7 separate regions of the Homo sapiens genome follow, and all the other regions are reported to be linked to region 2. Evidence: microRNA targets listed by miRTarBase, many of them from high-throughput screens and not tested one by one. Region 2 holds a microRNA gene; each other region holds the end of a gene's coding sequence. Distances are from middle to middle.
Evidence for each region. Region 2 holds the annotated microRNA hsa-let-7g-5p (UGAGGUAGUAGUUUGUACAGUU, at 2,559-2,580, shown strand). A microRNA usually pairs through its seed, bases 2 to 8, with sites in the 3' UTR of a target mRNA and lowers its output. Matches are read on the target gene's strand: a 7mer-m8 pairs with bases 2 to 8, a 7mer-A1 pairs with bases 2 to 7 and ends in A, and an 8mer does both.

Region 1: the mRNA of DVL3 is a reported target of hsa-let-7g-5p. Seed matches in the 3' UTR shown: 8mer at 3,594-3,601.
Region 3: the mRNA of RANBP2 is a reported target of hsa-let-7g-5p. Seed matches in the 3' UTR shown: 8mer at 2,617-2,624 and 7mer-A1 at 2,114-2,120.
Region 4: miRTarBase lists PARP16 as a target of hsa-let-7g-5p. Seed matches in the 3' UTR shown: 8mer at 792-799.
Region 5: the mRNA of TRMO is a reported target of hsa-let-7g-5p. The part of its 3' UTR that is shown has no 7-base or 8-base seed match.
Region 6: the mRNA of FNDC9 is a reported target of hsa-let-7g-5p. Seed matches in the 3' UTR shown: 8mer at 1,644-1,651.
Region 7: miRTarBase lists ARID3B as a target of hsa-let-7g-5p. Seed matches in the 3' UTR shown: 7mer-A1 at 3,767-3,773, 7mer-A1 at 2,902-2,908, 7mer-A1 at 2,181-2,187, 7mer-A1 at 1,583-1,589 and 7mer-m8 at 1,493-1,499.

Annotation. Positions count from the first base shown.
Region 1 is chr3:184,169,905-184,173,957 of GRCh38, forward strand. It overlaps DVL3 (dishevelled segment polarity protein 3), which reads left to right. Exons shown (of 15, transcript NM_004423.4): 14 at 102-317; 15 at 415-3,710. The coding sequence ends at 851. Among named protein-coding and RNA genes, the nearest start is that of AP2M1, 2.9 kb to the right of the region's middle. RefSeq lists an enhancer at 1,637-1,931.
Region 2 is chr3:52,266,850-52,270,915 of GRCh38, reverse strand. MIRLET7G (microRNA let-7g) reads left to right here and starts at 2,555; the gene lies at 2,555-2,638. It overlaps WDR82 (WD repeat domain 82), which reads left to right. Exons shown (of 9, transcript NM_025222.4): 2 at 107-204; 3 at 3,898-3,964.
Region 3 is chr2:108,783,159-108,787,224 of GRCh38, reverse strand. RANBP2 (RAN binding protein 2) reads right to left here. Exons shown (of 29, transcript NM_006267.5): 29 at 1,416-3,629. The coding sequence ends at 3,324. It overlaps CCDC138 (coiled-coil domain containing 138), which reads right to left and starts at 454. Exons shown (of 15, transcript NM_144978.3): 1 at 310-454. The coding sequence starts at 402. RefSeq lists a silencer at 56-645.
Region 4 is chr15:65,256,109-65,260,174 of GRCh38, reverse strand. PARP16 (poly(ADP-ribose) polymerase family member 16) reads left to right here. Exons shown (of 6, transcript NM_001316943.2): 6 at 633-2,076. The coding sequence ends at 768. Among named protein-coding and RNA genes, the nearest start is that of SNORA24B, 27 kb to the left of the region's middle.
Region 5 is chr9:97,900,957-97,905,022 of GRCh38, forward strand. It overlaps TRMO (tRNA methyltransferase O), which reads right to left. Exons shown (of 5, transcript NM_016481.5): 5 at 3,533-4,036. The coding sequence ends at 3,777. Among named protein-coding and RNA genes, the nearest start is that of TRMO, 20 kb to the right of the region's middle.
Region 6 is chr5:157,339,260-157,343,325 of GRCh38, reverse strand. It overlaps FNDC9 (fibronectin type III domain containing 9), which reads left to right. Exons shown (of 2, transcript NM_001001343.4): 2 at 1-1,728. The coding sequence ends at 464. It overlaps CYFIP2 (cytoplasmic FMR1 interacting protein 2), which reads right to left. Exons shown (of 31, transcript NM_001037333.3): 23 at 2,169-2,256. Among named protein-coding and RNA genes, the nearest start is that of FNDC9, 4.4 kb to the left of the region's middle.
Region 7 is chr15:74,595,549-74,599,614 of GRCh38, reverse strand. It overlaps ARID3B (AT-rich interaction domain 3B), which reads right to left. Exons shown (of 9, transcript NM_006465.4): 9 at 1,484-4,004. The coding sequence ends at 3,841. CLK3-AS1 (CLK3 antisense RNA 1) reads left to right here. Exons shown (of 9, transcript XR_007064715.1): 9 at 1-696. Among named protein-coding and RNA genes, the nearest start is that of CLK3-AS1, 18 kb to the left of the region's middle. RefSeq lists enhancers at 1,033-1,327, 602-1,490, 2,106-2,606.

The DNA of each region.
Region 1 (4,053 bases), 130 Mb from region 2:
GCCAGAAACTACCACGGTCTCTCTCATCCAGAGCCCACCTGACCTAGGCTAGGGACCTCTCTCCGGAAAGACCTAGCTCCATCCGGCCCTCCCCTTCACAGACATGGCCAACCTGTCTCTCCACGATCACGATGGCTCCAGTGGCGCCTCTGACCAGGACACACTGGCCCCTTTGCCGCACCCGGGGGCCGCCCCTTGGCCCATGGCTTTCCCGTACCAGTACCCGCCACCCCCGCACCCATACAACCCGCACCCGGGCTTCCCGGAGCTGGGCTACAGCTACGGCGGGGGCAGCGCCAGCAGTCAGCACAGCGAAGGTAAGGTAGAGGGGCCGTGGAGGAAGGCTATAGGTGGGCCCCAGGCTTCCCCCGCCCGCTCAGCCTGCCCCACCCCGGCCCTGTTTGCCTCCTACAGGCAGTCGGAGCAGTGGCTCCAACCGTAGCGGCAGCGATCGGAGGAAGGAGAAGGACCCGAAGGCCGGGGACTCCAAGTCCGGGGGCAGCGGCAGCGAATCGGACCACACCACACGCAGCAGCCTGCGGGGGCCGCGGGAGCGGGCGCCCAGCGAGCGCTCAGGGCCGGCGGCCAGCGAGCACAGCCACCGCAGCCACCATTCCCTGGCCAGCAGCCTTCGCAGCCACCACACACACCCGAGCTACGGTCCTCCCGGAGTGCCCCCTCTCTACGGCCCCCCCATGCTGATGATGCCCCCGCCGCCCGCGGCCATGGGGCCCCCAGGAGCCCCTCCGGGCCGCGACCTGGCCTCAGTGCCCCCGGAACTGACCGCCAGCAGACAGTCCTTCCGCATGGCCATGGGAAACCCCAGTGAGTTCTTTGTGGATGTGATGTGAGCAGGGCCCCTCCCCCAGCTCCATTCCGCTCCCACCCCAGCCGGCTGCGTTCCTCTCTCCATCCGTCCGTCTTTTTTACTTTGTCTGGTACCTGAAAGGGAAATAAAAGGAACTAAATCCAGGTGCGCTAACTGCTCGCAGGGTGCTGCGAGGGTGGGGTGCACCTACCGATTGGCTCTGCAGCCCCCTAACCTGCCTCTGGCCCCAGTTCGTTTCCTCTGCCCACTAATCCCTGCGCAGGACTTCCCAGGACCCCTTTTGTCTCTGGGACCAGACTTGTTGGTGCTACCCCTTACTCCCCTCTGCAACCCCCATTTTGGGAGTTGACCCCAGCAATGACCTTGGTGGCACGCTCACTCCCTCATTCTCTCGTTTCCCCTTTAGCTCCCTTTCACCATTTATTCAGCTACATCATCCCTCTATTAACCCCACCCCATCAGGCACGTGTGCAAACCTCTTGACTTTACCCCACATTACTGAAACCAAAATATATTTGCTTCATCTGCCCCTACTAACCATCCCCCTGCCTGCTGCCTCAGTCCTGCAACCTAAAGCTGTAGTCGCCTCCAATAGCCATCCATGCCATCCCTGCCTGTGCCTAGATCAGAGGCCCAGAGGGCCCCCTCAGTTGCCTGAGCAGCTGGTGGCTTCCAGGGAGCATCTCTGCTCTACCCCTGCCCCATGCCTGCCCTGCGTGCTGGTTCCTTCAGACCCCTAACCCTACTAACCAGCAGGCTCATCTCACCTCCAGGCCTGAAACATTTCTTTTCTTTCTTTTTTCCTCCCCCAATTTACCCTGGGCCTGGAGCAGCCAAGAATTTCGGGCTGTTTGACTTTCTGTGAGCCCCCAGCGAGGGGAGGCCCAGCCTCCGAGGAGACCAGGAACCCTGCTTCAGCAGCCCCTCAGGGCTTCCCAAGGATGTCCAGCCCCCACACCCACACGTTAACATAATGAGTCACTAGGCTTCTGGGGAGGGCCCAACTTCACCCATGCATGAGAGACTCTCCTCCTTTCCAGAGAGAATCGGATCGCACCACGTGTGGCAGCCTGCGGCGGGGGGAGGGGGGCCTCTTTAGCTCTCTTTATCTTTCTCTCTCACTCATGTATGCATACATGCACAGAGATGCATACACAGGTGCCTATGCAAGTTCATTTAAGCCTCAGGGCTGGTCCCTGCCCAAAGGGCTGGACCCTCCTAATCCTCTCCTAGGTTGTGGGGCTGGTCCCCTGACACCCTTCTCCCCTTCCTGGTAGACCTTAAACCTCGCACACATGTCCCCAGCATTTTCTCACCTGGATAAAGCCCATAAGCTGGGTCTCAGGCTGGGCTCAGCAAAGGACTCGCCTTGCAACCGACAGGCCATTCCCACCCCCACACACAACCTCCCCTGTTTTCACATTCACCATGGCATCCCAGAGCAAGGACACAGGAGCCCACAGGCCAGTTGAGGTTGGGCAAGGAGACTTCCAGGACTTCCAGACAGAGTACCAGGTTTTATTTTTCACCTTATTCTCTACTTTAAACAAATCATAACTTTCTCTTTAAGCCTCTGCTATAAATTCTCCTGGCTCTCCTGGGCTTCCATATTTTGGGGGCTGGGGTGTCAAAAGTGAGATGAAGTTCTTAGCTCCAGGTTTTGGGGTAAACCAAGGTAGGAACATTTTGGCATTTATTTCAATTAACAATACTTCCTTGGACGGGTGCGGTGGCTCACGTCTGTAATCCCAGCACTTTGGGAGGCTGAGACAGGTGGATCACTTGAGGTCGGGAGTTCGAGACCAGCCTGGCCAACATAGCAAAACCCTGTCTCTACTAAAAATACAAAAATTAGATGGGTGTTTTGGCACCTGCCTGTAATCTCAGCTACTCAGGAGGCTGAGGCACAAGAATCGCTTGAATCCAGGAAGCAAGCGGAGGTTGCAGTGAGTTGAGATCGCACTCCAGCCTGGGTGACAGAGTGAGATTCTGTCTCAAAAGCAAACTAACAAAGAAAAACAATACTTCCTGGGGTTTTGGTGTGCAGAGGGCTTTGTTGGAAGTGTGACTCAATCTTGCCTGCCTTCTGGGAGCTCTAGAATTGTTCCCAACCCAGTCCATGGCTTCTAGCCACCACTACAGGGCTGTTTCATGTACTTCTCTCTCTGACTCTGTCTTGTCCGACTCTCTTGAGAATTTCTCAACGATTGCTCATGCCTGTCAGTATCAGTGCTTCCATCGTTCCATCTTTGATTCACTTCTCTTTCCTTTCTATTTACTCCCAAAATGGAGTCATTCATCCTGATGTCCTCAATTGCTGCTGATATGCTGGTGATTCCCAAATACATAGCTCCAACCCCCAACTTCCCCCAGACTTTAGATCTGTATTGGTATTACCTACTGGACATCTCTATGGACAGTTCCGTATAGACTCAACTCATCTGCCCAACCAAGTATGTTCCTCCTGAATTCCTCTCCTGGTTACTTCATCACAATCTACATAGGCTCACCAGCTAGAAACATTTATGAGCTTACATTCCTTCTTCCCATATCTTATCAGCATATCATATCCATTTCACTCCAACACTCTGTCTTGAATTTGGCCCTCCCTCTCCCCTCTCTACTTTAATTCATTGGAGCATGGGATTTGGAGTTAGGTGGTTTTGGGTTTGAATTCCAGCTCTACTATTTTTGGTTGTGTGATAGAGTTATTTAACCTCTCTGAGCCTCAGTTCCCTCGTATGTAAAATGATGATAATAATACCTACCTCACAGGGTTGTTGTGAGGATTTAAATTAGATATTGTACGAAAAGTGCCTAGCACAGTGCCTGGCACACAGTAGAGTAGGTGCTCAATAAATGGTAGCTATTATTATTATTATTTTATCATTATTATTATTTACTCTAAATTGGTAGCAGTTTAGGGTATTTTTGGAAGATAAAGCTTTTGCAAAGGTAGAAGTGAAGCCTTGAGTGCTGGTTCAAAAATTAGAAGTGCCTGTATTCAGTCACTTAATGACTTCAGGCCGTGACTATGATGTGAGAGAGGTCAGATCTTCATCCTGCCACATCGTGGCTTCTGGCTGGAGGCTGGGAAGGACTGTAACATTTGCAACCAGATCTGTCCTTTCTTGCCCTTCCTTCCTCCCATGACAGGCGTAGTCCTGCCCAAGGAAGGCAGCAGTTTATCTCTGCCTACAGAAAGAGAAGAGCCAACAGATTTT
Region 2 (4,066 bases):
AAATCCTCACCTTTGCCACATCATTCAAGTGCTTCTCTTTATGTGGAGATCCCAGATTTTGATGATGGAGAATGTTCATGATTTTCTGTCTCTATTTTCTTATCAGACCAAAGAGAACCCTGTACAGTAAGAAATATGGTGTGGACCTCATCAGATACACTCATGCAGCAAACACAGTTGTTTACAGCTCTAACAAAATAGACGGTAAGCAAGCCTTTTTAGGAAGTTAAGGTCATGGTTTCCTTTGTTAAATAGTTCATGGAATCTTTGTGACTACTTCTGCTTTGTGACTACTTTAGTTTAAGTATTTTCATATAATGTTAGTAATGTTAATTGCATTGTTTTGACTGAAGGAATGCTGGAAGCAAGCCATTGGCACTTTTGAAGGACTTGGGACTGAGTATGAAAAGTCTTCAATTCAGAGTGGGGAGTGGAAAAAGGAAACAACTAATTGTGTTTATGATTTGTACTTCCTGACACTTAAAAGAACGCTTTTAAAGCCGGGCGTAGGGGCTCGCGCCTATAATCCCAACCTTTGGGAGGCTGAGGTGGGCGGATCACTGAGGTCAGGAGTTCAAGACCAGCCTGGCCGATATGGTGAAACCTTGTCTCTACTAAAAATACAGAAGTTAGCTGGGCACAGTGGTGCACGCCTATAATCCCAGCTACACAGGAGGCTGAGGCAGGAGAATCTCTTGAACCCGGGAGGCAGAGGTTGTGGTGAGCCAAGATCACGCCATTGCACTCCAGCCTGGGCGACAGAGTGAGACTCCATCTCCAAAAAGAACACTTTTAGAACAAATAAAAGGAAAGAACACTTGATACACAGCAAGTGATAAACAACAGGACTTTTTCTTTTAAAATGATAGAGATTTGAGAAAAGTTTCACAAATGCTTGAACTATGATAGTTTAAGGGAAGTTAGAACAGTTTTGGTGTTTTCCCAACCTTAGTCACTTCTGATTCCAGGAACGTTTTTTGATCTAAAGAGTAGAGTTACTTTTAGAAATTGAACTTGTGAGTTTCTTTCTATAATAAACAATCTCTGTTTTTGCCTGCATGTCTCGAGATAAATCCTAAGTTAACAGATTGTCTTGGTAACTGAACTGTAACACTTATTTTCATGTTAGAATTCTTTAATTTTTTAATTTTGTTTATTTTCTTTTGTTTGTCTGTTTTTATTTTTTGAGACAGAGTCTCACTCTGTTGCCTAGGCTGGAGTGCAGTGGCGCGATCTCAGCTCGCTGCAACCTCCGCCTCCCGGGTTCAAGTAATTCTCCTGCCTCAGCCTCCCAGGTAGCTGGGACTACAGGTGCATGCCACCATGCCTGGCTAATTTTTTGTATTTTTAGTAGAGACAGGGTTTCACCATGTTAGCCAGGATGGGTCTTGATCTCCTGACCTTGTAAGCCACCGTGCCCGGCCTATTCTTTATTCTTTTGAGACAGAGTCCTGCTCTTGTTGCCCAGGCTGGAGTGCAATGGTGCAATCTCGGCTCACTGCAATCTCAGCCTCCTGGGTTCAAGCGATGCTCTTGCCTCAGCCTCCCAAGTAGCTGGTATTACAGGTGCCCACCAACACGCCCGGCTAATTTTTGTATTTTTAGTAGAGTTGGGACTTCACCATGTTAGTCAGGCTGGTCTCGAACTCCTGACCTCAAGTGATCTGCCTGCCTCATCCTCCCAAAGTGCTGGGATTACAGGTGTGAACCACCACGCCCGGCCAGGATTCTGTTTTTAAACTTATTTCAGTGGATTATTGATGATCATCTCACATTTTGCAGTAAGGTTTTTTTTAGGCCGGTGGCTACATAGTGGCTCATGCCTGTAATCCCAGCACTTAGGGAGGCCTAGGAGAGTGGATCACTTGAGCACAGAAGTTCGAGATTAGCCTGGGCAACTTGGGAAAACCCCGTCTCTACAAAAAATACAAAAATTAGCCAGGTGTGATGGGACGCGCCTGTAGTCCCAGCCACTTGTAAGGCTGAGGTGGGAGGATTGCTTGAGCCCTGGAGGTCTAGGGTGATCACACCACTGCACTCCAACCTGGGTGACAGAGCGAGGCTCCATCTCAAAAAAACAAAAAAGATTTTTCTAATGTCATTCCACAAGGATAGCTTATACTGCTATTTTGGCTGTGCCTATCTCAGAGCAGAATGGGCGGAAGTCCTTTTTTCCATTTTTTTTTTTTTTTAATGAGACTCTTCTGCCTGTATTGATTTTTAGTTAAGTATGTCATTTCTACTTTTCATGCCTGTATTTCAGAAGTGGTTTTCTAAGGAAGCAGTGTAGTTAATGATTTTGGAAAAGAATGTAAAACCTTAGGATCCTGAGGAAACATGTCTATGTGATCATCCGAATGACTGGTTTATTTCTTCTGTTGGGATGTTTTTCTGAGTGATTAAATGAGGATTCTCCAAATGTGGTGCAAGATGAGGCAAATGTGTGGCACTTGTAGCTTTGCTGCCAAGCCTCTGCTGTGAGGATGTTCCCTTTCCTGTCTCAAGTGCATCCTGAAGAGTTCCTCCAGCGCTCCGTTTCCTTTTGCCTGATTCCAGGCTGAGGTAGTAGTTTGTACAGTTTGAGGGTCTATGATACCACCCGGTACAGGAGATAACTGTACAGGCCACTGCCTTGCCAGGAACAGCGCGCCAGCTGCCAAGTGGGGCTGAGAGGATGGCGTCACCCTGCTCATCTCTGGGAAACCAGGTAATGGGGAGGAAGTCTTTTTCTTCTTAGGGCAGGTGAGTCATTGTTAGCAGTAGAATAACTAGAAATACTTCGTAGTTGTCATTCAAGAAGTTTGAAGATGTTTTCAAGGAAAATTGTGTAGTGTTCAAGTTATGGAATATACAAATATCCCTATTCCCCTATTCCCCCTCCCAAGTTAAATGCCCTCTTATTAGAAAGCACCCCTGTGAACCCCTGGGATGACTCGATGCTTTCAACCCCTTTATTCCTATGTTCTGTTTGCCTTCAGAATGTTCTTTCTATGGTTTTCTTTCTGCATTTTGGTACCATTTTCCCTTAGCTGTTTCTCAACAATTTTTCCTTATTCCTAGTCTTTTTAAGGGGATAATACTTTTCTATTTTGCAGTTTTATTCTTTATGGCACTTCATTTCTCTACCGCCACCATGTTTTTTGTTTGTTTACTCTTTCAGATAGAATCATTTGGTTAAGAGTGTCTTATTTTTCCACAAGCACAAATCTCTGATTGTTCCTTTCTTTAATATTGTCAAAATCTCACTGCTATTACTCATTGGTATAAGAATTTGATTTTTTTAATGTCTTAAGATCTTTTTAACCCAGATCTTGACATCACTTCTCTGACGTTTTGTTTATTTTCATTGTAATTTGTGTGTCCAATTGAAGAATGTTCAAATGAGTTGAGGGTGGGTCAACATACTGATGGAGAACTCTAGACAAAAATTGCTGCCAGGGTTCAACCTGATCTTCAGTTTAACTGCCATGGCTGCTCACCTCTTTAAGTCTGTTAGCTCAACAGCCACATATTTTTCTTTAAGGTTTGCCATTCTGTGGACACTAGACCAGTATCTAAAATTATTATGTGTGCTTTACTTGTTTTTGTTTTTTGACCAGGGTATATTTGCAGGGTGGGAGTTGCATTGTAATTATGAAGAAACCAAATTGGTAATAAAAGGTCATTTCAAACATTGCTTTCTATGCTGTCAACTTAAGAACTCTGCTTTTGAGTTAGGTGAAATCTACATACCCACTCTTCAGCTGCAGAGTAGAATTATTCACCATTATTTATTCATGCCTTGCTTGGGATATAGAATACAATGGATTATTTGACCTTGTCTTTTTAAGATGAAAATGTAAAGTAAATTTCTTTTAAATAGTATGATATCATCATACCTTGTTTGTCTTTTTACAGATACTATTCGTTACTTGTCCTTGCATGACAACAAATACATCAGATACTTTCCTGGACATAGCAAAAGGTAAGACCCACGTATTATAGAAGCAGATAGTTCTTTTATCCCTGAGGTTACCCAGAGAATAGAAGGCTAGAGAGAGCTTATTAGTGAACTGAAGCTACTTCC
Region 3 (4,066 bases), not on the chromosome of region 2:
CAATTCAATTGTTTTCACAACTCCACTCACATCACTGCAAAAAAAAGCTGAATAGCACTTTCTCCAACACCACACCATGCCCAGTATACCAGGAACACAGAGGCATAGGTGAAGCGGCACCCCCGCACCCCCGCAGCGCAACGCCCGCCCCTCCCGCCTGCTTCCACGAGGCCCAAGCCGCAGCCACGGCGGGAGTGCCGGGGCCGGGACCAGAGCCGCTGCGCGCCCCCAGGCCGGCTGCGCGGGGCACGGAGCGGGCCGCCCCCCAGCAGCAGGAGCCCACCCGCGGACCTCAGGCGGCGGCTTCACCTCGTCGGGGCAGCTGCCCCCGAGTCCGTAGCGGCTTTTGAGACTCTCCACTACTAAATCCTGCCCCGGTGGCTTGACGACCCTCGGCTCCATAGCACACAGCAACCGTACCAGTCTCCCCGGGAACCGCGTTCATCAAACCCGCGGCGCTACGCGGCCGCAGTGCGTCACGACGTGCCAGACCCCGCCCCCCCGAGGCACGCACGGCGGCAGGGAAAGGGCGGGGCGGGGCGACCCGGAGACTGCAGCCCGGCTTGTCAGCGCGTCCTCCAAGTTTCTCGTGCTAGCACTACACACCTCGTAACTGAGTAGTATTGCATCTCCCCGCGATAGTCCTGCCCCGGCTGCCTGGGTGCCACGGGTTGAGGGGCACCGAGGCCCCGCACCTGCCTGCAGCGCTCCGCTCCAGCTCCATTTAACCTGTTAAGTTTGGTGTGCGTTGCGCTCACCACATAGACCGGTCGTTCCATCAGAAGTGACCTTTGCTAACTGCCATATAAAAGAAAAACCAAGAGTATATCTGAGCCGGGAGTGGTGGCGCGCGTGTAGTCCCGGCTGCTAAGGAGGCTGAGGCGGGAGCATTGCTTTGAGCCTGAGAGTTACATCTATCTTGGGTAACATAGCAAGACTCCCATCTCTTAAAGTTAAAAAAAAAAAAAAAAAGGGAAAGCTGAGCATAGACATTGCAGATTACCTCACTTTCCCTGTGTTCCATATGGGGTATAACAGGGTATTAAAAAGAATAGTTAGAATGTAAGCACCCTGGAAAAAAAACTTTTTTTTTTTGAAAAGAAAAAAGCTTTTGCCAATACCTACAACAGTGCTAACCATAGTACATAGTATACATCAACCTGAAAACCTATGTTAAACAAAACTGACTGAGGGGAACTGTACAACCACTTCATTTTTCTCATTCATAAAATTACAGTGGTGTAATCTTTTACTTTCTAAATTGTGACTGTCAGCTGCATCTCTGGACTAACAACTCCTAAATTCTCTGGATTAAAGTTCCCAAATGCCCAAGTTTTATAAAATCTGTACTTCAGCAGTTATTATCTGAAAATTACTTAGGCCATACTTTTTGCCATAAAGTACCACTTAAGATGTACAAATAATGAATTTTATTCTATCTTTAAGCAGATTTTAATGAGACAACATAAAATCCAGTTTAAAAGGAAAGATACATATTATCGTGGGTTTAGACCACATCAGTGATTAAATAACAAAGAGAAATCAAAGTCCTTTCCTGAAATGTGACACAAAGACTTTCTCATAAATGCCACAAGCCACTTTTAAGCATCTTTGGAATACTAATACGGGAAAAGTCAGTTTACATGTCATTTTGTCAAATTTTTGGTCAAAGTTTTTAAAGCTTTTTAATTTGTAACTTTAGTGCTTTAGGAAAGCATACAAATCTGTAAAAAGTCTCTTAAAAAGCACTTGCATTAACTTAAGAATTTATTCTAAAATCATGACGAAGGCATCAACTGTCTCAGCTGAAAAGTTACAACACACTTTACATCAGTTTATATTACATAGATTTCCAAATAAGCCAATTTGAAATATTTAGTGTAAACATATGTAATCCATGGTTCAAGACTGAACTGATACATTTGGAGTAGGTTTATTTCAAGTATCTGGCTTTGTGGCCGAGTGGAATGGTGATGGTATACCATCACTCATTACTCGCACAACATCCCTCCCCTCTTTTGACTGGTGGTTGAACAGTTACTTGCTTTAGGATACCCAATTTCCAAATCCCCATGTAACAGGGAATAAACCTGTCTTTCCTCACTAAATAAAATGAGGTAATTTCACCCGAAAGAACACAGATGGGTGGAAGACAGTCAATATTCATAATTGCAATATACAAAATTTTGTGTTCTACCTGGATTCTTTGTAGTTCCATATTGAGTAGGCCAATAAGAACATCCTCTTTTCTTTAGCAATTTGCCTAACATTTGATACAAGCCATTTCCAAATACGTTTTTGGTGTGTATCAAACTTGAGAAACTAGGAGCTCTGGAAATTATGCAGCAGTTTGAATTTACTGCCTTTAAATTGTCTTCCTTACTTTAGAATGAACCCGAAGCGTAAGTAATGAATTTTTTGGATGTCAGTGGCTCTTAGGAATTGTCATTTTATTTCTGCTACAAAATTTACCAGAAAAAGGTACTGCAACAATCTTGTATAAAGCAAATCTTTAACGAAAGAACATGGTATAGACTTTCTAAAAATATTCATACTTTATCACAATAACTACAAGGAAAAATTCAATTTCTATCATCAGAACCAAGCTGCAGTTTCTGAGGTAGTAGAGACAGATGACAGAAAAGTTTGAAACAAAACCCCTAAAGGAAATAGTCAACTTGTTTAAAATGTAAAAATTAATCGAATATCTATGAAAGGGCACAGGAAGCTAGATATTTTAAGGAAGGAAGGTACGCTACTTACAAAGTTAACTTGTAACCACACAGGAGGTGTAAAGATTCTAGAGAAGAGCACTTTGGTTAACTCTATACGTTCTGTGGCTCTACCCATTCATAAACGAGTCTCTATGCATAAATGAGTACACCAATAGTTAAGATTACCAAATATATTTCAAACCTAAAATTAAATTATCCAAGTTGTGGTCCCTTTATTCAAATGGTAAGTATATCCATGCAGGAAGTCCAAATATCTTAAAAGGAATTAAAATTAAATTGCATATATCATATTCCTTCAATAGTTTGAGGTCTATTGCTTTTAACAAGATTAGTATTATTCCATTTTAATACGTCAGGAGTACATAAACACAAGTACACCTGAAATACACCAGTGTTTAAACTTTTATTTCACACCATGCAAGGTCAATTATAACACATTAAAAAGTGACAACAGCTATAAGCTGCAATTTTACATTTGTAAATCGGAAACGTCCATTTTCAAAAGCTGAACATAACTATCAAATTGTAATAGCTAAGCTTCAATCCAACTGCTTATACAGATGAAATTTTCTATGAACAACAATGATTTTATATCTGTCCACATTCTGTGATAGTTATTCTTCGACAAACAGACCCTTTGGGAGAACCAAATGATTCAATCTTTTTCACAGTATCCATGCCATCCTTAACAAACCCAAATACTACATGCTTAAAGTCCAAATGTTCTGCTTTCTTCAGTGTTATAACAAATTGAGAATTATTGGTATTCTGGCCTTGATTGGCCATGGATAGTAAACCAGGACCAGTATGTTTCACATCAAAATTTTCATCTTCAAATTTGTCTCCATAAATGGACTGTCCGCCTGTTCCATCATGTTTGGTGATATCTCCTCCCTGAAAAAAAGATTTATAATAAAAAAGTTAAAAATTTTTTTCAATTAATAGGAATCCTGAGTAAAATATTAAAATACACACAGAACTCATCACTACATGTTAAATCCTAAAGCCCAGCTTTCCTGAGTATAGTTTGAAAACTAAGAAATTCATATTGTTGGAAAGAAGATGAAAAATGAAAAGGTTTTTCCCATCCCTTAGTTTCTACTAGATCTCAAGTACTGAAAATTTGATTTTTTTTTTTTTTTTTTTTTTTTTTTTTAATGACAGGCTGTCTCACTCTGTCGCCCAGGATGGAGTGCAGTGGTGCAAACCTAGCTCACTGCAGCCTTGGCCTCCTGGATGCTCCCACCTCAGCTTCCTTGTAGCTGGGATCACAGACGCACACCACCACACCTGGCTAATTTTTGTATTTTTTTGTCCAGACGAGATTTTTG
Region 4 (4,066 bases), not on the chromosome of region 2:
GTTTCCATGCTTCCAGACTTCATAAACCAGTAAAGTCTCCTCCCGACCCCTGTCCAAATTTGGGAAATGTATATAGGGTGCCTGGGTCCAGGTGACATTATGCTTTGGTTTAAAATCATCTAACTTTTTATCCTTGAAAATTCCATTCCTTTCCCACTTCTCCCTGGAGCATCTCTTTAGTGCACACTTGGGTGGTTTAGATCATCTCCTAGTGGGCCAAAGAGGATTTCCCCAGCTTGGATTTATATCTGCATGTGTCTAAAAGTGAAAAGACTTCAGCTAAATTACCTGCCACCTGCCACCATCTGGGCAGACACCCTGAGCTAGGTCATTGTTATAGATACCAAGATGGGTTGTAAATGGTAAAAGAGGAGCTACAAAAGGGAAGATCAGGATGAGCTCATTGCATAGCTGTCTTTGCGCATTTAGAAAATATCCTGTTGAAAGGCGTGTCAGTGCCTGGGCAAACAGCCCCAGGTTTCTTGAGCAAGGAAGCACGAAGCTTCATTTCATGGCTCAGGCAAAGGATGAAATTCATCATTTTGTCTTCTTAGAGCCAGACTTGTTGTACACACTTAAAAAAAATGTTTTTCTCTTTTTGCCAACACCACTCTTTTTTCCCTCTTAAGCAGGGCTTCGAGCCAGCTCTCCTGGTTTTCCAGCCATTGGTTTACCGTCATGATATCCCTGTATCTGCTGCTGCTGCTCATAGTGAGTGTCATCAACTCCTCTGCTTTCCAACACTTTTGGAATCGTGCGAAAAGATAATCTTTCTGGGCCTGGTGTGGGGGCTACCTCAACTATGTGCCTTATGGTAACTTGTTCTGTACCTCCTATGCCTCATGTCCAGCCAGGTTGAGCCTAGGGGCCAGTTGGGGGACCACAGGACAATTTTCATATGGCCTAAATGTATCCATTGCCTTTGATGATGTTCCCAGCCATACTCCAGTCAACGGGGACTACTAGTCCCTCACTCTTAGGTTTTAGGGGAGTCCTTCCATCTGCTCCTTCTTAAACTGTCCTAGGGAGTTGGCTTTTCAGCCAGGGCCAAAGGAAAAAGCCCTGCTGCATTTAAAAACAAAGTGTCCAAGCTGTCAGTGGTGTGTTTACAATCTCTCCTGGCAGAGGTTGGCCCTTTCTCTAATGCCTTCTGGAAGGCGGAAAATGTGGGAACTATAAATCACTAGGCGGTTGCCTTGTTTTGACTTGAGACACCCAAGAGGAACAGTCATGTTTCTCATAAAAATCAGTGGGATCATTTTTGAATTCCATCAGCCTTTGTATGTGAGTGCAAAACATTTTAACAGTTTTCTCAAATCAACAAACAGCCTTCTCCTATAGCTGTACTTGCCCCCCTCCCCAAAAAACCATGGATGAGAAAGAAAGGAGTCAGGGGCCTGATAAAAAATACAGACTTAATGAGCAACTCAAGATGAGAAAACTGCTCTTTTTCCAAAAATTACCAACTGCTGATTACAGCTGAAATGGAACCAAATGTTTGTTTTCTGATTTTTTTTTAATAGCTGTTTAACAAATTAGTCTTTGCTGAGTAAAAGGGGAAATTTCTAAACCTAGTGCACTGTTTGGCCAGTGTCCACAGCCTCTTTTCTGGCTGTGTTTTAGAGAAAGGGATTTGAGCTATAGGCTCGCCTCCTGTTCTCATTCTCACAAAGCTGCCTTGACTGTGGCCTGCAACCACGAGTGCCATGCTTTCAGGTCTTCTGTGGCCTACTGGCCTTCAAGACAGAGGCCTGCCCCAGTGTGCCACAGATCCATGTGGATGGAGCCTCCTTCAGAGGGGTCACAGGTCTTTGAGACTCAGCCTGGGCTTTAATGTGTAGGAAAAGCCTTCTGGCCACCCAGAGAGCCGGAGCCCTGCTTGCTGTATTCTCTGCTCCCTTCTTCCTGCTGGGTTTTAGCCATAATAGGGCCCGGTACGATTTGGGAGTGACATTTCTGTAAAGAAGAGGAAAAATCATTTTTCTATAATTTGTAAAGTTGTGAAAGAGCCACTACCACAGTTTTTACATTGATTATTGGAACATTTCAGAATAAATAAAGATATTTTCTTAATGATTTAAGTTGCCTTTGTGAGTGCTTTTAGCCTTAGTGTGAGTCTGCCCTATATGCCTTGTTGTTAAAAACTTTATCTTCCATCCTTCCTTGTTCAAACTAGCTGTTTGCTGGAGAGCATATATCACCAGGATATGATATCTAGGAGGTGTTGGATTTCTAGTTAATGACTTAACAAACGTGAGTACCTACTGTATGCCAGGCACTAGGAATACGAGCAGGATCAAAGTCAGAAAGCCCCTGCTTTCACAGAGCTGACAGCCTGCAAGGTGGGCAGATGGACAAACATTTCAAGAGTGAGGTTGGGAGTTTATGGTATTATAAAGTTTAGGGAAATACTTGGCAAGGAGTCCTAACATGGTCTAGGGTCAGAAAATACTCAGGTGACACATGTAACATTGCAAGGCACCTTACTATACTGGTTAATTTTCACAACAGGCCTTATCTACTTTTTTTTTTTTTTTTTTTTTTTGAGACAGAGTCTTGCTCTGTCACTCAGGCTGGAGTGCAGTGACGCAATCTCGGCTCACTGCAGCCTCTGCCTCCCGGGTTCAAGCAGTTTTCCTGCCTTAGCCTCCCTGTAGCTGGGATTACAGGCACACACCACCATGCCTGGCTCATTTTTGTATTTTTATTTTTATTTTATTTCTTTCTTAAATTTTTTTTTTGAGCTGGAGTCTCGCTCTGTCACCTAGGCTAGAGTGCAGTGGTGCAATCTCAGCTCATTGCAACCTCTGGCTCACTGCAACCTCTGCCTCCCGGGTACAAGCAATTCTCCTGTCTTAGCCTCCTGAGTAGCTGGGATTACAGGCGCATGCCACCACACCTGGCTAATTTTTGTGTTTTTAGTAGAGATGGGGTTTTACCATGTTGGCCAGGCTGGTCATGAACTCCTGACCTCAAGTGATCTGCCCACCTTGGCCTTCCAAAGTACTGGGATTACAGGTGTGAGCCACCATGCCCGGCCATTTTTGTATTTTTAGTAGAGACAGGGTTTTGCCATGTTGGCCAGGCTGGTCTCAAAATTCTGACCGCAAGTGATCCACCTTCCTCAGCTTCCCAATTACAGGCATGAGCCGCTATGTCCAGCCAGTGCCAGAGAGTTTAATAGCTTGCCCAAGGTTTTATTGCTAGGATGTGGCAGAGCTGGGAGTTGAACCTGGCAGACTGATTTCAGCGTCAATCACATAACCAATCTCCTTCCCCCAGAGGAATTGGTTCTAGGCTGAAAGGTGGAGGAAAAGTGTTTCAGGCAGTAGGAACAGCACATGCAAAGACCTGAAGTTCTTGGAGAAGCTAAAAGCAGGCAGGTTATAAAGGAAGAGGCAGTGATGAGAAATCAGGCTGGAGAGGTAGACAGGGACCAGATCTTGAAAGACTTTAAAAGCTGTGGGCGGCCGGGCGCGGTGGCTCACGCCTGTAATCCCAGCACTTTGGGAGGCCGAGACGGGAGGATCACGACGTCAGGAGATTGAGACCGTCCTGGCTAACACGGTGAAACCCCGTCTCTACTAAAAATACAAAAAATTAGCCGGGCGTGGTTGCGGGCGCCTGTAGTCCCAGCTACTCGGGAGGCTCAGGCAGGAGAATGGCATGAAACCAGGAGGCGGAGCTTGCAGTGAACCGAGATTGTGCGACTGCACTCCAGCCTGGGTGACAGAGCGAGACTCCATCTCAAAAAAAAAAAAAAAAAAGCCGTGGGCAGAGGAAAGCCATTAGAAGGTTCTAAGCAAGAAAATGATGAGATACGGTTTTTAGAAAAATCACTCTAGCTGGTGGTTGGAGAGCGGATCTAGGATTACTTTGAGGATTAAGAGGATTGATGCTTATGTAGTGCCCAGGGCAGAGTAAATCACTGATATGTATCAGTTGCTGCTACTATTATTACTTGTTTTTAAGGGCCCAACAGAGCAGAGAGCCTGCAAAGGAGACAGTAGTAGTGACCAGAGAAATAGGAGGCGACTGAGATAGCCAAGTGTCATGGAAGCCAAAG
Region 5 (4,066 bases), not on the chromosome of region 2:
CCCCTGAAGCCAAGCTTACAATTTAAGAAAAAATTAATAAATGCCACTCATCTTTCTAATCTCTTCTCACATGTGACTGACAATCATCAGTCAGCATTGCTTGTACAAGTTACTGTTCTTTAAAGCTGGGGCAGGTGGGCCAAACGCCAAAATTACCTAAACAGCTTGAACTCCTGGTGTTTTCCTCCAAGCCAGTGAAATGGGAATAAAATCTGCTATCAAGGGCTCCCCCTACAGGCACCAAAAAGCAAAGGCTAAAAATTAAGGTGGGTGCCATTTACGCCTAGTAGAGAATTGTTTCTTCTCTTGAAAAAGTTTCTAAGGCAGTCCTGAAACCACAACTTTGCTTGTTGACACAATCCCTTTTCCAAAACTCTGGCCAAAGAGTCTTAAAAATCTAAAGGACCAAGAATCAAGCAACCTCTTCCTCTTGATGTACTCACCTCCCACTTAATAAAGGACCAAATGTGATTTTGATACAAATAGGACACAAAACGACCCTAGAGCTGTAACACTATTTTTGACAGTCATAATTATGGCACTTTTGAGTTTTCTTGTAGCTCATTTCCATCTCATTTTTAGGATTAGTGTGTATTTGTGTGTGTGTGTACATGCGTGTGTGTACATGCACGCACCAAAACAACTTCAATTCCGGACATAAAATCAATGACAGTTTTAAAACCACTTGATGGAAGGTTTGAGGGAACTTTTATCATTTATTTATTTTGTGCTACAAATCAGGTATATTTAATTCTCTGGGTTCGTGGAATGAGCTTGGATGGTTGCCTGCTCTCAAAGGCTAAAAAAAAAAAAAGCTTGGATGGATAAATAAAGTTTCCAAGACATAAAGAAACAGACAGACAGACAGCTTGTTTCAAATTTGTGCTTCTATTTCTCTCTGAGGGATGGAAGTTCACCAACCAGAGATGCACATTTCCTCACAAAGGACACTTGAAGTTGTGCCCACAGAGGCAAATGCTCATATGGAGACTCAAGAAAGCCTGGGGTTCAGAAGAGGCTTGAGATCATGTTATGAGAAACAGCTGAAGAAAACGGGGGTGCTCAGCCTAGGGAAGACCAAGGGGTGGTATGACAGGCTAACTTGGGAGGGCAACCAGCCTGTGTGGCCTCTCTAGTGGGCAGAGCTGTCGGAGGACAGAGTGGATCTCACGTTCAGGAAGAATGTTTTAATAATGAGCACTGCCCATAAAGAATAAGCTGCACAGGTCAGGGGTATATACCTCATTTAGGCAGGGCCTGGAAAGGCCAGATAGTGGGAACATTGAAGAGACTCAGGAACTGGCAGAAAACTGAGCCAGATTATATTTAACATCCTTTTTATTATTTTTGTGGGTTTTTTTTGAGACAGGGTCTCACTCTGTCGCCCAGGCTGGAGTGCAGTGGCACGATCTCGGCTCACTGCAACCTCTGCCTCCCAGGTTCAAGCGATTCTCCTGCCTTAGCCTCCCGAGTAGCTGGGATTACAGGCATGCGCCATTACCACCCAGCTAATTTTTGTATTTTAAGTAGAGGTAGGGTTTCACCATGTTGGCCAGGCTGATCACGAACTCCTGACGTCAAATGATCCACCCGCCTCCGCCTCCCAGAGTGCTGGGATTACAGGCATGAGCCACTGCGCCCAGCCTAAAATCCTTCTTAGCTCTAAAATCCTGAGACTGTATAATAAAACCCCAAACAATTTAATAGTCCTCTTGTTATAAGGCCGTTGGTTACCATCCCCCAGAGTCATTGTTAACATATTAAACAAAACATTTTGTGCTTCAAGCCCTGATGAAGCTTCAAAATAACTTTTCAAAAGAAAAAACAACAAAATCAAACTAAAGTGTAGGCTCTACCAGTGTCAACTTCCTACCTTTAACGTTTACTATAGTTATGTAAGATGGAACCAACCACTGGAAGAAGTTAAATGAAAAGCTGGGTGAAGGGTACACAGGACCTCTACTATTTCTGCAATTTCCTGTGAACCTCTGATTATTTCAAAATAAAAAGCTTTAAAAAATCAAATTAGCCCAGGCACAGTGGCTCATGCCTGTAATCCCAGCACTTTGGGAGGCTGAGGAGGGAGGGTTGCTTGGTACCAGGAGTTCAAGACCAGCCTGGGCAATGAGGCGAGACCCTTGTCTCTACAAAAAAATTTAAAAATAGTGGGGCATGGTGGCATGAGCCTGTAGACCCAGCTACTCAGGAAGGTGAGGTGGGAGGATCCCTTGAGCCTGGGAGGTTAAGGCTGCAGTGAGCTATGATCAGGCTACTGCACTCCAGCCTGGGCAAAAGCATGAGACTCATCTCTAAAAAAAAAATCAAAAACCAAAAATCAAATTAAAGATACCTCCCCAAGAAGTTCTAAGTAACATCAAAGGCAATTACAAATCAGTTTGGTTTAGGAGTACAGTGTCATCAGCCACAAATGACTCTGCACAAGTATCCACAGGCAGCAGAACTCATTTCAAAACTATTCAAGACTATTTCAATCAGCTCATTTCGATCAGCTATTAAGATTTACAATCATGATTAGGAAAGCATGTATCATGTTGACAGGTGTCTAATTTGGTTATGTTGATCATAAATCCTCAGTTATCTGGGAGCACATCATTAAAATCACCTATAGGCAATACATTCTTACAACTGTTTCCTATGTGGTACTACAGAGGATCCATGTATAATTACTGTATTTCTAAAACTATAATACAATAATTTATTTATGTCTTACTTCTTCCATTAACCATGATTGCAACAAGAACTACATCTTGTCATCTTATTTTATCACCAAAACCTAACCCATAGGTTCTCAATAAATAGTTGCAAAGTGAGTATATTAAAAAACAGTAATTATAGGCCAGGCACGGTGGCTCACACCCGTAATCCCAGCACTTTGGGAGGCTGAGGTGGGTGGATCACGAGGTCAGGAATTCGAGACCAGCCTGACCAACATGGTCTCTACTAAAAATACAAAAATTAGCCAGGCATGGTGGCGCACGCCTGTAATCCCAGCTACTCAGGAGGCTGAGGCAGGAGAATTGCTCGAACCTGGGAGGCAGAGATTGCAGTGAGCCGAGATCACGCCACTGCACTCCAGCCTGGGCGAAAGAGCAAGACTCCATCTCAAAACAAAAACAAAAACAAAAAAACAGTAACAATTTTCTTGAACTTCTGAGGGTGATTTCCTTTTCTGATACAAAGACATCCAAAGAAATCTCAGAGAGTCTCTATTTTAGAATCAGTATTAAATATATATACATATATATATGTGTGTGTGACTATGTCACAAAGTCTCTGAAACACATAAGTTTAATCTCAAAAACTATCTCTACTTGTTTTTTATTTGTTAGTTTCCTGATATAGGTTTGATTTGGAATCAAATAGAAAGGTCAGGCTTTTCCAGACAGACAGGAAAACCAATATGAATTACTGAATAGATCCCCTCAACTAGAAAGTCTCTGCTGGAATGAACTTTGTCTAATTTTATCAAGTGCACCAAGAACAGCTTCTTTCAGAAATTATCGAGACAGCATCACCTTTTGATTCTTTAATATCAACAGATCAAAAAGCATTTGGTGATTTCTCTGTATTTTATATCTCTTTGTTAAGTTTATTAATGTATACGTTTTTCAAATAAACATTTTGAACAGCCCAAATCAATCAAAGCCATGAGATCACAAAGTGTTGCTTCTCGACACAACATTAGCTTGTTCAGAAAATCCAAAAGCCACATCCAAAGATCAATGATGCTACCTTAAAGACATGAGGGAGGCTCCTTAAGACCCTAGAGACACCAAGGACCCCACAGGGCCAGTCATATGAACAGGCTCAGAAGCCGGCTTGATCCTCAGCACCTCTGCAAAGCCATCACCAAACCAGCAAGTGACATGCGCTATGTCTACAGTAAAGTAGAAAAGGCGGTCCTGGCAAAGCTTCCGGCGGTACACAGACCGAGGATCCGCTGACAGCACAGCCTCAATGGCACGCTTTGCTTCCTCTGCTGACTGAAAATATTTAAATGACGCCTGACCAACATCTGCAATGAAAAAAACACAACTTAATGAGC
Region 6 (4,066 bases), not on the chromosome of region 2:
TCTACTTCCTGTGCATCAGCTGTAAGAAGGCTGCCTTCCCTTACAGGCACTACTGCACCATGTTCCACACCCTGGATAAGAGTCCGCTGGCTCCTGGAAGCTCCCTGGTAGACCCCCAGATCTCCCTTTGGGTGCTGATGGCCATTCTGCTGGCCTGCTTCACAGCCGTCTTGGCCTTCATCTGCCTCCAGTTCTGGTGTGTCCGTTGCCATGAGCCGCGATGGTCTTACAGGGCTGGCCACATGGAGGAGGCCAATGGGTTGGTGAGATGGCCAGAGGAGGCCCCGGATCTTGGTCAGAGGGAGGAAGACCTGCAGGGGCTCCCCCTGGTGGAAATGCCACGCAAGAACTCCAGAGATGGAGCTGAACTGGATCCCGAAGCCAACCAGGATGCCCCTGATGCGGGTGCCTTACAGAGGGGGGGTGGTGACCCACCCGCTATACTGCCTCATTGTGGGGAATGAGAGTGGGGAGGAGAGCGCCCGCATCATGTAGCCTAAAGCTTTCCACACAGTAGGTCGTTTGTACAAATGTGTCTATAGACTACCCATTTCTCTCCCATCAAACGTCACTGCTATTGTAGGTCACCTGGGTTGGATGAATGCCCCATGACAAAGCTTCTCAAGCTGGAAAATGTATCCCCCAGGGTATGCCAAGGCACAAACGAGGCATCTCAGCAGCAGCGTCCACTCGGAGGACACAGTTAAGAATTGAAAGCATTGTTTTAACATTAAAACAAACATGGATATGTTATAAAGTAGAAAGCAAAAATTTGCATGACAAATAAAACACAGCACTTGAAGGAAACACTTGAGTTACAAGTAGGCTCTCAGAGGTACACTTTTGGGCAAAGGTAGATGTCCAGTTTCCTCTGCCCTTGAGGGGATTATTTGGAAATAATTTGGGATTATTTGGAAATAATTTGTGAGAACCCTTGCTCTGGAGTGTTTTCCAACTTTTAGGCAATCACATACCACCGCTCTCTATTTTTTAAAACCATGGATTATCTTCACTATTATTAATAATACTTTCCTTTAAATTGACTCATTTTTTAAGCGTAAACTTATTTTCAAAGACAGCCTTATATTACTCCATAAGTGAAAAACCAGCACCCTCCTGCTGCAAACAGAAGGGAAGAGACATAAGAATAAACATCATGAAAACAAGATAATATTAAATAATCTGACTTAGCTTCTATTGCCTGCCAGTGATTCTGAGCTTAATGCCTGCTTGCTTGTCTTTGATAAAAAGGGAGATCCAGTGTTGGAGAGGTAATAAAGACATATTAGCACCAATATTTGTCTTTCTCCTTGATATAGCATAAGGTTTGAAAGAGAATCGAAAAGGGAAGTGCTGTTTTTACTTTGCGAGTCAGTGTTAGTTAAATGCCATGTCTGTGAACCACCTCAAATGCTGTCAGTCAGCTTCCCTTGATTTGAGAAAATTGTCTTGACCAGACTAGGCAGGCTGTTCTGGAGAAGACGCCTGTACTCTCCAAGCATCATCCAAGACCTTCCCAGTACCCTCTTATATCTATAGAGCACAAAATCCCAGAATCACAGGACGACACTGCAGTGAATCAACTAAGAAACAGCAGGAGCTGAGAAGCCAAGACGAGAAGCCCCACATCCCTATTCCCTTGCCTACCTCATGCATTCCCTGCTCGGCACCCAGACTTTTGCCCCCATTCCTGCTACTTGTGAACAAATAAAGATTCATATACTCACAGCTGTTTCTGCCTGGATCTTATTGCTGCCTTTTTCCTTTCTCTTTAGAGATAAGAGTCTCGCCCTGTCAGCCAGGCTGGAGCGAAGTGGTACAATCATGCTCACTGCAGCATAACACTCCTGGGCTCAAAGGATCCCCCTGCCTTAGCCTTCCAAGTAGCTACTGGTGCATGCCGCCATGTCTAGCTAATTTTTTATTTTTTATTTTTTTGGTAGAGACAGGGTCTCGCTATGTTGTCCAGGCTGTTCTCAAATTCCTGGCCTGAAGTATCCACTGGTCTCGGTCTCCTGAAGTGCTGGGATTAAAGGTATGAGCCACTGTGCCTGACCTCATTGCTGCCTTTATCTCTGCACCTTCTTACTCTTCTAATTAAGAGACACTTTTCTATTTGCTTTTTCTCACCAACCCTCTTCTAGGCAGGGTAGGGCAGGACTACTTACCTTGGATCCATAGAGGTAATAAGGCTGGACGTTGGCAGGTTTGTCTCGTTGTGGTTCTTGGGTGAAAGGAATGGCAGTCCGCACAAAACTAGTAGAAGCATAGGGATGGGAAAGAGTTAATATGGTCCTAATATTATTCTCCATGGGACACAGATAACAGGAGTGCTTCCTGGCCAGGTGAAGGTTTGCACTGGTACAAGTGCACTGTTTGTTAGGTGGTTGACTATAAAGGTACTAAACTCTTCTGACATCTTCCCATTCAACTGCCGTCTCCTTTCTATAGATGGGAAAAATTCAGTCTAGATTCCTGGGCTCAACCAGGGGCTTGTGGCTGCTCCGAATGACACTAGGCAAGAAACTAAGAGTGGACTTTCTCTAGGGCTCCACTCCTCTACCTCCAGTTTGGTTTCTCAAGAGCAGAGTTCAGCAAACTCTTTCTCAAAAGAGCCAGGCAGCAAATATTTTTAGCTTTGGAAGCCAGACGGTCTCTGTTGCAAGTACTCAACTCTGCTGTTGCAGCATGGAAGCACCCACAGACAATAATAAACAAATGAGCATGATCGAGTTCCAATAAAACTTTATCAAATACAAATCATTTTCACTTGTCACCAAATATTATTCTTCTTTGGATTTTTTCCCCTCAACCACCCAAAAGTGTGAATACTATTCTCAGCTCATGGGCTTTACAAAAACAGTCAGCAACTAGATGTGGCCTGTGAGCCACAGTTTGCTGCTCCCTGCTCAAGAGTGTTAAAGCTCCTAAATCTTTATAGAACTGGAAATCTATCTCACTTAGTGTGTGGATCCAGGTGCATTTGTGGATATCTCCCATACCCTTTCATTCATTCAACACACACTCATTCAATACTGGCCTTGAGCCAAGGCTTGGAGATACCTAGAAGATCTGCAGATGAATACATTTTTTTTGCATCCTTACATACTTATTTTGTATGTGAATATATATGCCTTACTCTTCCACTGGGTTATGAAACTTTGTGGGGATAAAGAAATTAGGTCTTGTCTCTACCTCAGTGCCTGGCCCCGGGCCGTGTGCACCTTGCAGGAGGCAAGTTCCACTTTGTCATGCGTATGTGTGCTCTGCAAATGTATGCTGTTTTGCAGGCATGCTTTCAGATACGTGGATATCCTTACAAACATACAATCTGATCATGTCATCTCCTTTCCTCAAACTCTTTCAGGGTTAATAAAAATGCACGATCCTGCCCTGGCCTGTAGAGTACTGCACAATCTGTTCCTGTGTTATCTTTCACAGCACCATTTCCCACCCGACTAGTTTTACCCTCATCAACTTCTTGGAGAAACCCTTAGAAACTTGTCTGGAATATTCTTCTCCTGCCTTTTTGCCTTATTTATTCCTAGTCATCCTTTGCATCTTAACTCCAGCATTACTTCCTCAAAGAGGAAGCCTCCGTTGAGGTTTGCATGACTTTTTGGACTGGAATAGGTGGTACTGTTACCACTGTCATGGCCCTGTGGGCTTTCCTTCATCTCCTTATTCACTGTTTGTAATGGTACATTTGTCATGTGATTGATCACCCACATCCTCCTCTAGTCTGAAGACTCAAGAGGCAGGAAGGTATCTGCTCACCATGGCATGCCCCATGTTTTACTGGAGCAGGAAAACACCCCAATGGGCAACTTCAGAGTAGCAGTAGAAAGAGCTCTTCAATGAAAGAAGACCTAATTGTTAACCACATTCAACTGTCAACCAGCTCTATGACCTTAGGCAAGTGAGACAGCACAAAGCCTGTGCCCAGGAGGGGCTCTGAGAGACACCTGTTGCAGGAACCACTCACACATGTACTGGGCCTAGTTTGGAGGAGGCAGCTGGCCACTCCCCCAACCCCCACCCGGCCCCCTCTGCACAGGGACTCCCT
Region 7 (4,066 bases), not on the chromosome of region 2:
GGAGCCACAGGCAAAGTGGGCTGAGGCTTGGCATTCCCCTCGAGGTCATCTGGCCATTCTGAACGCCCCTCCTCAGCCTGCTTCCTCCGGCTGAGCCATGTGCCCCCGGAACCCCTCTGAACTCTGTTGCCGATCCCTCCCTCCATCTGCGCCTTCAGTGAAGCAGTTTCTTAAAGGAGGGGTCCTTGGTACCGTGGAGGGACAGGACATCTCTGGGAATTCGTACCCAGCTGCGTTCGTGCTGAGTTCTTCATGACCCACTCCTTCCAGCGTCAGCTGGTGGATCCAGGGCTGGGTACTGAGCCGTACTGGACCAGTGGGCCCCCTCCCGGGATCGCTGGACTTGGAGCAGAAGAGTCCCTCCAGGGCTGAAGATTGGACACAGAAAACTTGGGAACTGTCAACTGCCCTGTTATTCACCTCGTGAAAAAAGCTGGATTTCTAATGAGAGCGAATGGAGGTGACAATTCCCAGAAACTGGAATTGGGATGGTGAGATTTTAGTTCAGCCGCCGGCGGTCTCATGCGTGGAGGTGATAAAGTTGAGCTTTGAGGTGGTCTTCAGAGGGAGAGGAATACCCTCTGCGGGCAGAGCTTCCTGGGTTCCGGGCCCTTCCGGACGTCAACACAGGTCCAAATGCCCTTGGGCTCCTCCGCACACCCTGGGTGCAAGAATAAATCCTTCTCTCTGCCGCCATTAGCCTGACTGGCTTCGGTTACTTCGCACAAAAAGCCCTTGCCGAGCAAACGTCCCCGGTGCTGCTCCAAAGGAGACCCCTGCCCTCCTGGAAGCTCCTCCCTGAGGCCGGGTATCCACTCGCCGCTCGCAGCCCTCGCTCTAGCTCCAGCTCCTGTTCCTTTTCCTGCCCACCCCGCCCAGTGAGGAGATCAGCACCCCTTGTCTGTCTCTGTGTCTGTCGGGGTTCGTGCCTCACTGTGTCCAAGCCCGGCTTCTATCCCTAGTCCCTTCCTGTTCGCGCCACTCCTGCTTGCTTTCTTCTCCCCTTCCCTCCAGCGGTGGTTCCAAACCTTCTCTTCCATAAGACCCTCCATTCCGTTTCCCAGAGACCCAGGGGTGCCCCTCGCAGGGGCAGAGGCGCAGCCTGTAGTGGATCTCCCTCCGCGCAGGGCGGGCAGTCTAAGGTCATTCCCGGTCACCCTGCCCCCTCGCTCCCATTGGCTCTGGGGAGGGCACGTGACTCAATCCTGGCCAATGGCGTGGCGGGGCCTGTGGCTTGCTGCCGGGCAGGCTTTTCTAGGAGCTTCTGGGGTAACGCCAGAGAAACCTGCTAACACACAAGGTTAGCTGAGAGTGAGCTCAGTGAGCTTTCCCTTTGAAGAAGGCGTGGGTGAAGGGGAGAAGGTTCAGGAGAAATCAAGGGGTCAGGAGTAGTTCACTCAGTCCCCTTTCACTCTGAAGGAGCTCACCTCTCCCCAGTACTGTCCAGTGGAAAGGCCACTCAAAGCAACTGAGAGAGACCTGCTTGTGTGAAGAGGTAGAGGTTTATTGAAATATAAACATTCGAGAACATGTAAGATAGAAAATAACCACAACATATAGACACTTGCTGCAGGAGGACATCTGAGGTATTTACTCACTGCCTAGGCTACCCATGTGCTATCACATTTTTCCTGGTTAGAATACATATAAGATGGAGAGCAGGAGGGGACAGAGCTGCCCTGGCTGATGGCACCTTCAGGGGAAGCTCTGCTTGGGCCAAGGCCCCACTCGTGGGGGCACCTGCTGGCACCCCTCATCGGGCTCTGGGTGACACCCTGCTGTTGTCCTTGAGGGCAGTGAGGGTTCACTCCAACGGTGTGGCCAGGCGAGCTGCCTGGGGAAAGGGAGAGGATCCAATGACCGGAAAGACACAGTGTGCTTTCCCTGCATCCTCTGGGTGGGAAGAGTCCATCCTTTGTGACCAAACCCCTGAGAAAGACATACTGGCCAAATGTCTGAGACACCTTCAAATGGGCCCAGTGCCAGCCAACTGGGCTCCTCACTGGCACCACGTCCCAGATGCCCTTCTCTGCCCACACCCTGCAGGCTGAGGCCAGAGGAGGTCAGCCCTCGGGAGATGGGGTATGTGTGTGTGTGTGTGTATGTGTGTGGGAGTGGGGGTGAGTGTGTGTGGAGGGCTGAGAGAAGACGCAGTTGAGCAGAGCTGCAGCTTACCGGGCTGAGGTATCTGTTTGTGCTCAAGCTTTTGATTCCCTTTCCTCTCCTACACAGGACTGAATGCGAGCCACGCTGCCACACACACCCACGCCACGCGCGGTGTCTCCCACTGCCACAGCCCCATGTCACAGTGGTGGTGTTCTGCTGAACATTCCAGGGCTTCCTCGACTGAGGTGAGCCGCAAGCGAATCAATTTTCTTTACAGCACAGGAGCTGCCTGCTCCCGCGCAGGGTCCAGGAGGAGCTGTGGAGTTATTCATCTCCTCATACCCTGGGGCGGCTCAACCTCTGGCAAGGCCAGCGAGGACCCCAGCCTGCCTGTGCCCTGAGCTGGGAATGCTGAGTGATGGGGAGGTGTCCTCTGCCTCCCTGGTCAGCTGGGGGTGGGGGTGTGGCAGAAAACGGTCTTCAGAACTGGTACAGTTTCAGGGCCCGACCCGGTGTGAGAGCGGGCCTCTCCACTCCACCTCCCCGCCCCCGCGATCCCTGAGTCGTCTCCCCTGCATGCCTCCACCCACCTCCTCACTGGGCTTGAGGGAAGGGCCAGAGGGGCCGGGTTACCCAATCACTTGCTTGGCTTTGGGGGTGATCTGTTTTCATTTCTTTGGTGCTACGATAAAAATTTTAAAATAAAAAAAAAACAAAAGTCAGCAAAACACATATAAAAAAGATTTCAGAGATGCAAATACTTCCTGAAGACTCAAACATCAACAATTACAAATCTGAGGTATTTCAATGAACCTGACATCGGCACGTGTGGGGATGGTGAGGCCAAGATGGCCCCATAAGAAATAGAAGAGGGCTGAGCTGAAGAAGGCTGAAGAAGGCTGGGGAGGACTGGGGAGGGCTGAAGAGGGCTGGGGAAAGGATGAGTGGGCTGTTTTTGGGAAAGCAGGCCAATAAGGGCAAGTGGGGAGCATGAGGTTTGGCGGGGGCGGTCAGAGAATGGTCCGTGTGAAGCAGGTGCCAGGGCTGGGCAGCCCCGAGGCTCTGCCTTCCCATCAGCAGATGCCCTGTGGGCCCTGGCCCTGAACTGCCCTCACAGCCTCTTCCTTCAGACTATTAGAAGGGGGATCTGGGGCCCTGAGGACTGATTCAAGACTTGTGTTTGAGGGACCCGTACCCCAGGAACCTAACAGTAGGCAAAGTGGGCTGGAAGGGCCCCATCCCATGCTCTGCAGAGAAGGGCATGAAGGCATGCTCTTGGCTCCTGGCAGCCCCACATGGGACTTAAAAACAGGGGAAGAGACTAGTGGCCCTGGGGTCATGGCAGAAGGCAGGGTCAGGGAAATAAATTAAAAGGGGAGGGAAATGGAGGGCCTCCAGCCCTGCGTCGGCTGACAGATTGTCGATACACTGTGCCCTGAGCTGGGAGGTGGCTGGGGAACCCTGGAGGAAGCTGGACACCCACAGACCCCCACCCAGTTCTCCAGGACAATCCCTGATTGGACAACGCTGTCTGTCCTGCCCCTCTAGCCTCTCCCTGCCCCCAGAGTACAGCAGGACCTGAATGGAGCCTGGACAGACGGACACGTCCAAACTCTCAATGTCTGGCCAAATGGTGCTCGTCGACGTGGGCTCTGTGAGATGAGGTAAATTCTGTGCATCAACTTCCTTCACTCTCGACAGGAGAGTGGCAAGTGGGAAGCTGGGTCCTGCCCATCAGAGGGACCAGCTGGTGGAGGGCTCTGCGCTGGGGGTGCCCCGGGATGAGGTAGGACTTGGTGAACAGTGAGAGCTGCTGCTGCTGCTGGCGCTGCTGCCGAGGCTCTGGGGAGCAGACCCCGTGATGAGGTGGACCACAGGCTTCTGGGCAAACAGCACACCTTGGTGGGTGGAAGAGAAGCAAGTGTGGGCAGAGGAAGAGCGAAGGGGAGGGCCAGCTCCT